2 linked regions of the Homo sapiens genome follow. The protein of the gene in region 1 purifies or fractionates together with the protein of each later gene. This does not show direct contact. Each region holds a gene or a part of one and is shown in the gene's direction. Other genes may lie near its edges. The genes, in order: PLEK and RDX.

Region 1 (3,832 bases):
AGGACATATATGTGTTTAGCTTTAGCATAAAACCACCAGATATTTTTTCTGCACTGGATGTGATATTCTGCACTCCTGCCAGCTATGTTTGGTACTTCCAGTTATTCTACCTCCTTGTCAAGTCTTATTCTTCTCTGACTTTGAAAATGCTAGGTACTCTAGCAGGTGTGTAGAGGTATCTCATTGTGATTTGAATCTGCATTTTCCTGATAAATAATGATGTTGAACACTTTTTCATAAGCATTTGGATGTTTTCTTTACTAAAGTGCCTGCTCGATACTTTTTGCTCATTTAAAAATAGGATTATTTGTACTTTTCTTATTGATTTGCAGGAGTTCTTTGTATTCTAGATATGTTTCAGTTGTAAAACAGAAAGGCATTTTACTGGAATTATTTCATGTGTTGGCACAGTGTCTGATCTTGCTCATTTTTAAAAGGGGAAATAATCCAGTGTTCGTCTGGAATAGTTATTCTGCCCATGCAGAAAAGAGATAGGGTATTTTAATTTAGAAAATTATTTTAGTAACTAGAACAAAGGAAATGTTTGGACAAGCAAAGTGATAGTCCCACAAGTATTTATCTTTGCATAAATAGTCTTCCTTTTGGTCAACTGGACCTTTATATAGAGGCCCTTTGTATTTTGAGATAAGCAGCAGGGTCTCTTGGGAACTGGATGATAATTCTATTTTGTGGTAGTCATGACAGGGTGATATCATGGGTTAAAGAATAGACCTTTGCCAAATTCTTCCAAAATATAGACCAGAAATAGAGACTTCCCTGTTTTAATCAGAATGGTCAACTTATTGCTAAAGGGGCAGCTGGCATGAACCCAAACTGAAAACATTTTAAGTAAGGATTTTTTTAAGGGCTACATTAATGTGGATAGCCTCATTCTGGCATTATAGACCTTTTGCAAGTGATTTTCATACAACTTAGCCATGCCTGCACACAAGGCTGCTGTCTGAGTTTCTTTTTGACATTCATATTCAGATAAAATCTGATTAGCCCAAGAGATGGAAGCAACTGCAGGGTGCATGCCACCACTTATGACTGCTTTGTCTATGGGAGACACGGCTGTTGGATCACAACACTTTTCCACTGAGTCCAGCCTCAAGCATCCACTACTACTCAGTCTGAATTGACACTTGAGATAGATTCTACTTGCCATTCTTGAGTTGAACTGAACTCAATGGGCAGGTTTGGGAGCAGAAAACAAACCACATAAAGTCAGCCTGAAATGTACCAGGGGAGCTTATGGGTTGACTGTCACTGTATATACATTTTATCTTAATTAAAAAAAATTCCAGTAGAATGACAGTCCTCCTTTCCCCTGAAGGCATCCTTCCTGCGCAGCCTTGTGCAAATGTGGACCACCTGCCTCCACACTGGCCAAAGCTGAGTTACATATTGTCCTGCAGAGGTCTATAGGATCATTTTAGGAAATATTGTCACACTTATTGTGTCTATTCTTATGTTAATCATTTCATTATGTCTTATTTATTCAGTCTTATCTATTAATAATGTGATCTTATTTTTAATTTTTAATTTTTAAAATTTAAATTTTTGTGGGTGCATAGTAGGTATATGTATTTATAGGGTACATGAGATGTTTTGATACAGGCATGCAATGAGTAATAATAACACCATGGAGAATGGGGTATCCATCCCCACTAAGCATTTATCCTTTGTGTTACAAACAATCCAATTACGCTCTTTTAGTTATTTTAAAATATACAATTAAGTTGGCAATAGTCACACTGTTGTGCTATGAAATCATAGGTCTCATTTATTCTTTCTGTTTTCTTGTTTTTGGTACCCATTAACCATCCCCACCTCCCTGCAGTCCCCCACTTCCCTTCCTGGCCTCTGGTAACCATCCTTCTACTCTCTGTGTCCATGAGTTCAGTTGTTTTGATTTTTAGATCTCACAGATATGTGAGAACATGTGATGTCTGTCTTTCTGTGCCTGGCTCATTTCACTCAACATAATGATCTTCGGGTCCATCCATGTTGTTGCAAATGACAGGACCTTCTTTTTTATGGCAAAGTAGCCCTCCATTGTGTATATGTACTACACTTTCTTTATCCACTCATCTGTTGAGGGACACTTAGGTTGCTTCCAAATCTTGTCTATTGTGAACAGTGCTGCAACCAACATGGGAGTGCAGATATCTCATCCATATACCGATTTCCTTTCTTTACAGTATATACCCCCCAGTGAGATTGCTGGGTCAAATCGTAGTTCTGTTTTTAGTTTTTTGAGGAACCTCCAAACTGTTCTTCATAGTGTTTGTACTAATTTACATTCCCACCAACAGTGTACAAGTATTGCCTTTTCTCCACATCCTCAAAAACATTTCTTATTGCCTGTTTTTTGGTTAAAAGCCATTTTGACTGAGATGAGCTGTTATCTCATTGTAGTTTTGATTTGCATTTCTCTGATGATCAGTGATGTTGAGCACCTTTTCATATGCACACTTGCCATTTGTATGTCTGCCTTTGAGACATGTCTATTCAAATATTTTGACCATTTTTTGAATGGTTTATTAGATTTTTTTCCTCTAGAGTTGTCTGAGCTCCTGATATATTCTGGCTATCAATCCTTTGTCAGATGGGTAGTTTGCAAATATTTTCTGTCATTCTGTGGGTTGTCTCTTCACTTCGTTGCCTGTTTCCTTTGCTGTGCAAAAGCTTTTTACCTTGATGTGATCACATTTGCTTATTTTTGCTTTGGTTGTCTGTGCTTATAGGGTATTGCTCAAGAAATTTTTGGCCAGACCAATGTCTTGTAGATTTTCCCCAATATTTTCTTACAGTCATAATGTGATTTTAATTACCACCGTTCATTCCACAAATTATTGATTGAACACCTGACAATATGATGGTGAAGTAAGTTCTTGCCCCCCTGGAACATATAGTTGGGTGGCAATAGTTGACAGAGTGATTTTACACACTTTATATATAAAACATGTGTATACATATGTATTTAAAGATATATACACTGTATAATGTATATGTACATTATTCACATATAAGCATATGGCATGCATTATACACTTATATATACATATTTTATACATGATCTAAATCTAAACTATGCTTTAAGATGGAATTATTATCTCTCTCTTAGCAAACAAAAAGCCATGGCTCAGAAATATTAAACATTTTACCCAAAGACATGTACAACTAATAAGTGGTTGACATGAGGCTCAAATGTAGGTTCGAGTTTTGACCCCAAATCATAGCATACACTGAAGTATCCTAAATACTTCAAGCATCATTGGATGACATGTCATACAATAATGGAGGAGGCCTGCAAGTCTGAGGCAGGCCGGATTCTTCACAATCCCAAACCTTATTCCACCAGAAGAGAAACCAAAGGGAAGTGTGTTTCCTCACAAATACATTCATGCAGATCCTCAGGGCCTTCAGCTTTCCCATTCATTACTCCACATGGCAACTGGCTAAATATTTTTGACTCTTCCTCATTGGGATGATACTGATACCAGTTCATTGTCATTTTTCCAAGAATAGAGAGGATGAAAACTCAAAGCATGGAAGACATTCATACATGGCCATCTGTCAAGATACTTAATAATACAACCTCTCATTTGTAGAGCACATTCGAACTTATAAAATCTTATCCAAATTATTTCATTTCATATGTTCTAGAAATCTCTGAGGTAGTCATTCTTATCATTTTAGTGCTGGGAACTGAGCCTTAGAGAGGGCAAGTGGCTTACACAAGTGTGGGCAGTAAGAAAGTCATAGAACCAGCTGGGCGCGATGGCTCACACCTGTAATCCCAGCACTCTGGGAGGCTGAGGCAGAA
Region 2 (3,832 bases), on another chromosome or scaffold:
TATATTCTGGTTTTGAATGTTATTCTAACCTAAGATTCTTCATCTTAGATTACTGAATTGAGTAATCAGACTATTATGGTGGAATTTCATTTCATATAAGGATTACCTTTTGTTTTATAATCAGAATTACTTTAATTTTTTTTTTAAATGTTAAAGAATAGGAATGCTTTATCTAAACAAGTACAGCATTGATCTTTCAGTGTTAAGCCAGATTGCTGTTTGGTTGAGCAGCAGATGAAGTAATTGGCTTACATTTCATAACTCATGTGATTGAAAAAAATCTCTTAAACACTACAATAACACACAAGCACAGTTTATTTTAAATATGGGTGTGCTCTAACCTACTCTATTTAAAAAGAAGGAAGGTGGCTAAATGCTTTAGATAGGGTTGCTTGTGGTTGCTAGTGCAAATGCCTATTTCAAGATTTGTTCCTTAATTTTGTAGGTCAGTTGTTCCTTCAGAGTTGATATTCCATGGAGGACTAATTCAAGCCATGTTATCTTAAAATGAGACTTAGTCATAAAGTTAGAATACCATTTTTTTTTCATTTTCTGTTTAGAACAGAGAGGATATTTTCACAGTGATTGGCTTATTCCAGTATGGTATATCGGACACTTTTTCTCAGTATCTAAGTACAGTCTGGGGAGGAAATGAGTAATTAGGTTATTTGGTGATAACAAATCAAATAAAATAATTTAGTGATTCTGATACATTCTGATTTCTTGTATTGAAAAACCCAGATGAGCAATCTGTTCTTACTGTAGAAAAGTTTAGCTCTTGTGGTATAGATAATTAGCTCCACCAGATAGTATTGCTTCCCTTTGAAAAGAGCTAAATATACATAAACTTTTACATACCAGGTTTCTGACTTGGGCGGCTGGGTATTTGGTAATACCTTTTATCAAAATGAGTGGAAGAAAAAATACATTTGAGGGGGAAGATGAATTCAGTTTTGAACCTATTGAGTTTGAAATATGTGCAATATAACCAAGAGAGATATCTGGTATTTATTTGCATATGTGGGTGCAGACCTTTTAGAAACAGTCTTGGACTATAGATACAGTTTTGGGAGTAATCAGTGAATAGATGGTAATTAAACCATGAGAATGAAAGAGATCAACCTACCAAGTACATAAAAATGAGAAAAAGACCTAGGACAGATCTTGTTGGACCTCAGCTTTTGTCTTTGGGTTCTGCATTCACAGAGTCAACCAACCACAGATTGAAAATATGTGAAAAAAATAACACAGCAATGAAAAGGTACAAAATTTTAAAAATACAGGATAACAATACATAGCATTTGTAGTGTATTAGTGTATTATTATACTACATAGTAGTAATAATATAGTGTATTAGTATTATTAGCCTAGAGATGATTGAAAGTATACAAGAGGATGTGCATAGGTTATATGCAAATATTGCACCATTTTATATCAGGGACTTGAGCATCCACAGTTTTTGGTATCCAAGGGGAGTCCTGGAAGCAATCCTTTATGGATATGGAGGGACAACTGTACTGAGACACTGGCCACAGATTCAAGAATAATTCTATACTAGAAGATGGCTGGGCATGGTGGCACATGCTTGTAATCCCAGCTACTCGGGAATCTGAGACCTGAGAATCACTGGAACCCGGGAGGCGGAGGTTGCAGTGAGCCAAGATGGCGCCACTGCACTCCAGCCTGGGCGACAGAGCGAGACTCCATCTCAGAAAACAAGAATAATACCAGAAGAGTATTATATCATGGAAGCCAAGGTAAAAGAATACTTTGATGAAGAGAATGGTCAGCACTGCCAAATGGTACCAAGAGGTCAAATATGAGGAGAACTAAAGTATCTGTTGGAATAAGGAGCTTGGTAGTGACCTTAGAAGAGCAGTTTCCAGCCGGGTGTGGTGGCTCACACCTGTAATCCCAGCACTTTGGGAGGCCGAGGTGGGCGGATCACCTGAGGCTGGGAGTTCAAGACCAGGCTGACCAACATGGAGAAACCCCGTCTCTACTAAAAATACAAAATTAGCCGGGCGTGGTGGTGCATGCCTGTAATCCTAGCTACTGGAGAGGCTCAGGCAGGAGAATCGCTTGAACCCGGGAGGTGGAGTTTGCAGTGAGCCGAGATCATGCCATTGCACTCCAGCCTAGGCAACAAGAGCGAAACTCTGTCTAAAGAAAAAAAAAAAAAGAAGAACAGTTACCATAGAGTATTGGGTGTTTGAGCCAGATTATGGTAGACTGGGGGCAGTGGATGTCAGGTATGGAAATTGAGGTTAGTGTATAATGGACAGTCCATAAAAGAAAGTTGTCTCTGAAAAAGAAAAAAAAATAGGGGTTGGGAAAAATTGATTAATTCATTTATTCACTCTACAAATTTTCGAGGCCCTCTTTAGTACTGGCATTGGGCATATAATTATGGTAAGCAATTGACTGCACTGGGTTATGTCTCCAAGGCTGATTGCATGCCTCTCTGTGAGCCCAGAGGCCAGACAGCAAGAAAGACAAGAAACTGTGGAAACCTAAGCTCTCTCAGAAGGAAGATGAAACTCTTCTCCCCAAAAGCAAGAGCTTGGAAAAGATGCCTAGAGAAAGGAGCAGAGTATAATAAGAACATAACAGTATGTCTGAGACCCCTTTAAGGAATTTACTCTAAGTAGTAGGTAACTTATCCAGGGGGAGATTTTATCATTCCTTTATGCTGCCAAGAAATCCTTGGGTTTCATGCAAGATTTTTTATATAGTAAAACAGTAATATTTTAACACCACAGCTTCTGCTGTCAGTAAAGTAGGATCTGGTAAATAAAGGTGAATAATTATCATATGAGCCAAAGAGAATAGAAGTCACAAACTGTAGTGTGCATAGTAGGTAACTTATAATCATGTTGACTTTGCTGATTTGGTGTTAAAATAGTAGTAGTAGAATATAATGTTTGTATTTGGCTGGGCGTGGTAGCTCACGCCTGTAATCCCAGCACTTTGGGAGGTCGAGGCAGGTGGATCACTTGAGGTCAGGAGTTCAAGACCAACCTGGCCAACATGGCGAAACCCCGTCTCTACTAAAAATACCAAAAAAACACACAAAAAAGAAAAATTAGCCAGGCATTATGGCGCACGCCTGTAATCCCAGCTACGCGGGAGGCCGAGAGCATCGTGGCACACACCTATAATCCCAGCTACTTGGGAGGTTGAGACAGGAGAATCACTTGAACCCAGGAAGCAGAGGTTGCAGTGAACCGAGATTGTGCCACTGCACTCCAGCCTGGGCAACAGAGCGAGACTCCATCTCAAAAAAAAAAAAAAAAAAAAAAGAATGTATTTGCTCACATTTGAATTAAGAACACTGGAAGGATACAAAAACAAGTTATTTGGGGGGTATTGGACTGGAGTATGACTTTTCACTCTACTTTTTAATTGAAAGTATTACCTACCTAAAACAACAAAATTAGTAGCAAAAAAGTAAATACATAAAGGAAGAATTAGGGCCCAAGAATTCTGGTTTTCAGTCTGGTCTTTATCTATTAACAATGAGCCATTTTTTTATCTAATGTTTTATTCCTTTGAACTGTTTGGGTTCCTATAAGCTATCTTTGTAATCACTTTATGGAGCAAGTATTATTTCAAGGAATTTAAGGATCCTAGACACTTAACTTTGAGATAATTACTGATTATTATGCAGTTGTAAAAAAAAGAGATCCCTGGTATCCTTCTCCCAGCATTCCCTGATGGTAACATCTTGTGTAACTACAGTACAATATTACAAACAAGATATTGACATTGGTACAATCTAGCCACCTTATTCAGATTACATCAGTTTTACCTGCACTCATTTCTGTGTGTA

The links.
Region 2: the proteins of PLEK (region 1) and RDX purify together in Homo sapiens (co-immunoprecipitation; one study listed by IntAct). This does not show direct contact.

What each region holds. Positions count from the first base shown.
Region 1 is NC_000002.12:68,375,073-68,378,904, forward strand, and holds part of PLEK (pleckstrin), read left to right. Parts: intron 1-3,832. UniProt on the Homo sapiens protein: Major protein kinase C substrate of platelets.
Region 2 is NC_000011.10:110,258,338-110,262,169, reverse strand, and holds part of RDX (radixin), read left to right. Parts: intron 1-3,832. UniProt on the Homo sapiens protein: Probably plays a crucial role in the binding of the barbed end of actin filaments to the plasma membrane.